Linked DNA regions of Homo sapiens: region 2 is linked to region 1. Evidence: fine-mapped expression QTL. A gene starts in region 1. The other region holds a variant in brackets. All regions are shown on one strand. Distances are between the middles of the regions. Region 1 holds the start of LAMC3 (laminin subunit gamma 3). Region 2 overlaps NUP214 (nucleoporin 214).

Region 1 (2,907 bases):
AGTGGAGATGGGGTTTCACCATATTGCCCAGGCTGGTCTCGAACTCATGACCTCAGGTGATCTGCCTGCCTCAGCCTCCCAAAGTGCTGGGATTACAGGCGTGAGCCACCGCACCCAGCCAGAAAATGCCTATTGCTGGCATTGGTTTTCGTACTCTATCCTGTAGTCAGCCATCTTACGGAGCTCTTATTAATTTTAATAGTCTTAGTAGAATCTTTTAGATTTTCTAGATGTATGTTCAGGTAAGTAGAAGATATAAATATTTATATCTTTTAAGTTTTTTGTCTTATTGTATTAGCTAGAACTTCCAAAATAACCTTAGGTACCAGTGGTGATATCATATACTAACTCTACTTAGATATAGTTCTGAAATCTCTAACTTATTCCATGGGTCTATTCTGTAGTCCTTTCCACAACCGTATTGTTTTAATCATGTGTAAATAACTGGTAGTGAATCAGCCCACTACAGTTCATCTTGCTTCCAAAAATTTTCTTTCTTTCTTTTCTTTCTTTTTTTTTTTTTTGATGGAGTTTCTCTCTTGTTGCCCAGGCTGGAGTGCAATGGCATGATCTCAGTTCACTGCAACTTCTGCCCCCCGGGTTCAAACAATTCTCCTGCCTCAGCCTCCTGAGTAGCTGGGATTACAGGCACGCACCGCCACACCCAGCTAATTTTTGTGTTTTTAGTAGAGACGGGGTTTCACTATGTTGGCCAGGCTGGTCTCGAACTCCTGACCTCAGGTGATCTGCCTTCCTCAACTTCCCAAAATGCTGGGATTATAGGCGAGAGCCACCGCGCCAGGCCAGGAAATTTATTTCTATTTTCCTTAGAGTTCGTCTGGGAATGGCTGCCTTTTTTTTTTTTTTTTTTTCGAGACAGGGTCTGACTCTGTTGGCCAGGCTGGAGTGCAATGGCATGATCACAGCCCACTGCAGCCTAACCTCCCGGGCTCAAGGGATCCTTCCACCTCAGCCTCCCAGGTAGCTGGGACTACAGGCTTGTGCCATGACGCCGGGCTAATTTTTGTATTTTTTTGTAGAGATAGGGTCTCACTATTTTGCCCAGGTTGGTCTCGAACTCCTGGCCTCAAGTTATCCTTCCGCCTCCACCTCCCAAAGTGCTAGGATTACAGGCGTGAGCCACCGCGCACGACCTGGCTGCTAAATTTTATCGAATGACTTCTCTCCCTCGATTTGCTAATGTTAATAAATGGGGAGTAAAGGGGGCATTTATGGGGGTTGGGGCAGAAGACAAGGAAGCCCTCTCTGAGGTGACATTTGTGATAAGACCAGGTACCCTTGTCACAAATGTCAGGTTAGAATCTCTTTGCTGTGGGGACAGAGCGCAGCCGGCAGCAGGAGTGCTTTTCAGGGTTAAGGGCGACAGGAGCTATGCGGAGCCATCTCACAACCCTGTCCAGGGCACACTTTATTGCTAGGAGGAGATGCGCAAACGGTAGCGATCAGTTAGAGATAGATCCTCTTGTCCCCTTTTATCTCAGGACTCCAAGGCACTGCTGAACAGTTTCTGTTTAATGAGCAGCCATTGAAGCCTCCCAATGGCGAGAATGAGCCTGCATCTTTACCGACCCCACTCCACAGACGAGGAAACTGAGGCTCAAAGAGGCCCGGGTCGCCTCTGGGGCAGACTCCCGAGCCGCGCACTGCCGGGCACGTCCAGCAGGTGGGAGTGGGCGCCCGGGGACGGCGCGGTCCCTGGTATTTTTAGTGGGGTGGGGCCGCCGCCGCCCGCCCCTCCCTCCAGCCTCCCCGCCCCGCAGGGGAAGGCGGGTCCTGGCGGCCAGCGCGCGGTCCGCGCCCACCCTAGCCGAGCGGGGCCGGCAGAGCGCGCGGCGTCGGTGCCCTTGACCATGGCGGCGGCTGCGCTTCTGCTGGGGCTGGCGCTGCTGGCACCGCGGGCGGCCGGCGCGGGCATGGGCGCGTGCTATGACGGCGCAGGGCGCCCGCAGCGCTGCCTGCCGGTGTTCGAGAACGCGGCGTTTGGGCGGCTCGCCCAGGCCTCGCACACGTGCGGCAGCCCGCCCGAGGACTTCTGTCCCCACGTGGGCGCCGCGGGCGCGGGGGCTCATTGCCAGCGCTGCGACGCCGCCGACCCCCAGCGCCACCACAACGCCTCCTACCTCACCGACTTCCACAGCCAGGACGAGAGCACCTGGTGGCAGAGCCCGTCCATGGCCTTCGGCGTGCAGTACCCCACCTCGGTCAACATCACCCTCCGCCTAGGTAAGCGCGGGCTGGGGGCACCGCCACCGCACCCCGTGTCCCCACTCCACTGGGGGTCTGAGGCTGAGGCCTGAGCTGCTGTGCGCCCAGGTTGGGCTGCAGGACCCAGATATGGTGTTGGATGGAGGGGCTCAGAAATAGGAATTAGGCTGGGTGCGGTGGCTCACTCCTGAAATCCCAGCACTTTGGGAGGCCGAGATGGGAGGGTCGCTTGAGCCCAGGAGTTCAAGATCAGCCTGGGCAACGTAGTGAGATCCCATCTTTACAAAAAATAAAGAAAAATAGGCCGGGCGCGGTGGCTGACGTCTGTAATCCCAGCACTTTGGGAGGCCGAGGCGGGCGGATCACCTGAGGTCAGGAGTTCGAGACCAGCCTGGCCAACATGGTGAAAACCCGTCTCTACTAAAAATAGAAAATTTGGCCGGGCGTGGTGGTAGGTGCCTGTAGTTCCAGCTACTCAGGAGGCTGGGGCAGGAGAATCGCTTGAACCCGGGAGGTGGAGGTTGCCGTGAGCCGAGGTCGCACCACCGTTCTCCAGCCTGGGCAACAGAGCTAACTCCGTCTCAAAAAAAAAAAAAAAAAAAAAAAAAAGCTGGGCGTGGTGGTGCACACCTATGGTCCCAGCTACTCAAGAGGCTGAGGCAGGAGGATCACTTAAGACTG
Region 2 (2,907 bases), 120 kb after region 1:
AGATTGATGCATAAAACAATCTTTTTTTATGGTTATGGAGAAAAATAAACTGATTTGAGATACCTTGTGTATTCAGTAATTTCCATTGAATATTAAATGTTTCTGCATTTACTATTTGTTAACTTATTTCACTTTTGCATATTTGTTTTAAAAGGCTAAACAGCAAAAACGCCCATTTGCCTATCATAAGCTTTTGAAAGATGCAGGAGGCATGGTGATTGATATGAAGTGGAACCCCACTGTCCCCTCCATGGTGGCAGTTTGTCTGGCTGATGGTAGTATTGCTGTCCTGCAAGTCACGGAAACAGTGAAAGTATGTGCAACTCTTCCTTCCACGGTAGCAGTAACCTCTGGTGAGTAATAAAGGCTTTCACACTGTAGCATACAATCATGGTCATCTACTTAAGAATTGATTTCTAGAAGTGAAAGTGGATAGCTTTTTGTGTTTTGGTTTTTTTTTTCATGACGAGGGAGGTTAAGGATGGAAGGTATTCTTTTTTGAGACAGTCTCACTGTGTCGCCCAGGCTGGAGTACAGTGGCATCATCTCAGCCACTGCAACCTCCACCTCCTGGGTTCAAGCAATTCTCGTGCCTCGGCCACCCAAATAGCTGGGATTATAGACATGCGCCACCATGCCCAGCTAATTTTTGTATTTTTTGTAGAGACAAGGTTTCACCATGTTGGCCAGGCTGGTCTTGAACTCCTGACCTCAAGTGATCTGCCCTCCTCCACCCCGCATATGCTAGGATTACAGGTGTGAGGCACTGTGCCCGGCTGAGAGTATTCTTTATACCCATAGTTAATGTCCTTGAAGCCAAACAGCATACATAATTTAACCTGAATGTACTTGGGATTTCTGGAGAAATATTTTGGTACAGCTGGTTTAGAAGTGTTTTTTGGGAATAATTGTTTCTGGATCTGTAACGGTGGTACTCTGAAAGTCATTTGTACCTTTGGGCGGAAAAGCATTTTAAATATTAAATGGGAGCAGGAGAATGATTTCTGGTTTTGTTTTTTTTTTTTTGTTTTTTTTTTGAGACAGAGTCTTGCTCTGTCGCCCAGGCTGGAGTGCAGTGGCGCGATCTCAGCTCACTGCAACCTCC[A/G]CCTGCTGGGTTCAAGCAATTCTCTTGCCTCAGACTCCAGAGTAGTTGGGATTACAGGTGCCTGCCACCATGCCCAGCTAATTTTTGTATATTTTAGTAGAGACGGGGTTTCACCATGTTGGCCAGGCTGGTCTTGAACTTCTGACCTCAAGTGATCCGTCCGTCTCATCCTCCCAAAGTGCTGGGATTACAGGCATGAGCCACTGTGCCCGGCCAGTGATTTCTTGGTATTTGGAAACCTTCTCTGTTCTCCTTGTCTTATGTAAAGACTACAGAGTTTTCTGTATTTTGCAGCTTTCTGGGCAGTAATCTATTGAAAAAGCATTTTTAGCTTTCAATTCAATAGCCCAGTGATAAATCAATTGGCTTATATCGTTAAAATGATTTTACTTTTTTCCACTTTGCCTGATAGAGATGATCCTACAATCTTCCATGGACTGACAGAGGAATGAGAATTGATAATTAGCTGTGTGTGATAGATCTTATTGGTTTGCTCCATTTTCTTGTTTTCATTTGGTAATACTGTCTTTGCTCAGTGTGCTGGAGCCCCAAAGGAAAGCAGCTGGCAGTGGGAAAACAGAATGGAACTGTGGTCCAGTATCTTCCTGTAAGTTCTTATCTTGAACTTCAGAATTTTTCTTAAGTTGCCCACTTTTTTGGGGGTGGTTTGGGAGTATCTTTCTTGTTTTTCCTATTAAAAAGTAATTTATACTCATTGTAACAAATCCATCAGTGAATGAAGAGTGGAACTCTTCCCTTTCCCATAGTCCTTCTTCCAGAGGCACCCACTATGTTGTGTTGAGTAGATAGCCTTCCATACTTTTCTGGATGTTATACAAATAGTCTATGGGTAGCTGCTTTTTTTTTGTTGTTGTTTTTATGTAAAATGTGATCATACGCTATGCGCTGTTCCCCACCTTTTTCAGTCCATTCCATAAAAACAGCTCAAGGGAAAAGAGTTAGTGAAAAAACTATGATGATAATGCAGAATCACTCTGGGTTAAAGCACAGTATTTGTCTTTTAACTGAGTCTGTCTTTAAAGGTCTGTTTGTCTAACTATGGGCACCAAAGAAAATGGATACTCTTGTTGCATGTGCACTCTGTCATCCTCCCTGTGAATTTCTTGAAATAATGTTCACAAATATCCTTCAATATCAATTGAGTTGCAAGGAACCCCCATATGTCTATTGAGCCTGGACACGAAGGAGGGATTCACAGGTGGTGCTAAGGCCTTTCTTGTGCCTTCCTCCTCAAGACTGTTCTCTGGCGAGGAGGGGAGCAGAGTGGTGAATGTAGGTGGTATAGGTTTAAGGTTAAGGTTATGTTTCTTATTTGTTATTACCAAAAGTTACCTGAAATTTGGTACATAATCTTTTAGGACACTAACCTGTAAAAAGATAATGCAATTTTTTAAATTTTCTTGCTTTGCTGTTTGCCTTAATTTTTTATTTATTTATTATTATTTTTTTTTGAGAGATGGTCTTGCTCTGTTGCCCAGGCTGGGGTGCAATGGTGTGATAACGTAATGGTTCACTGCAGCCTCAGCCTCCTGGGCTCAGGTGATCCTTCCACTTCAGCCTCCCGGGTAGCTGAGACTACAGGCACTTGCCACCATGCACAGCTAATTTTTGTATTTTTTGTAGAGATAGGGTTTTGCCATGTTGCCCAGGCTGGTCTCAAACTCCTGGGCTCAAGCAGTGTGCCCACCTTGGCCTTCCAAAGTGCTGGGATTACAGACATGAGCCACCTCGCCCAGCCTTATTCCACTATTGATGATTGTCTGCATCAGTGCTAGTGGCGT

The links. PIP is the estimated chance that this variant, and not a neighbour inherited with it, causes the effect.
Region 2: its variant is the best candidate, but not a certain one, in a credible set for the expression of LAMC3 in whole blood (TOPMed, PIP 0.82).

What each region holds. Positions count from the first base shown.
Region 1 is chr9:131,007,344-131,010,250 of GRCh38, forward strand. LAMC3 (laminin subunit gamma 3) reads left to right here and starts at 1,831. Exons shown (of 28, transcript NM_006059.4): 1 at 1,831-2,244. The coding sequence starts at 1,872.
Region 2 is chr9:131,129,125-131,132,031 of GRCh38, forward strand. It overlaps NUP214 (nucleoporin 214), which reads left to right. Exons shown (of 36, transcript NM_005085.4): 4 at 155-353; 5 at 1,642-1,712. Among named protein-coding and RNA genes, the nearest start is that of NUP214, 5.0 kb to the left of the region's middle. RefSeq lists a silencer at 2,539-2,713. The variant A/G (reference allele first, on the strand shown) is at 1,106.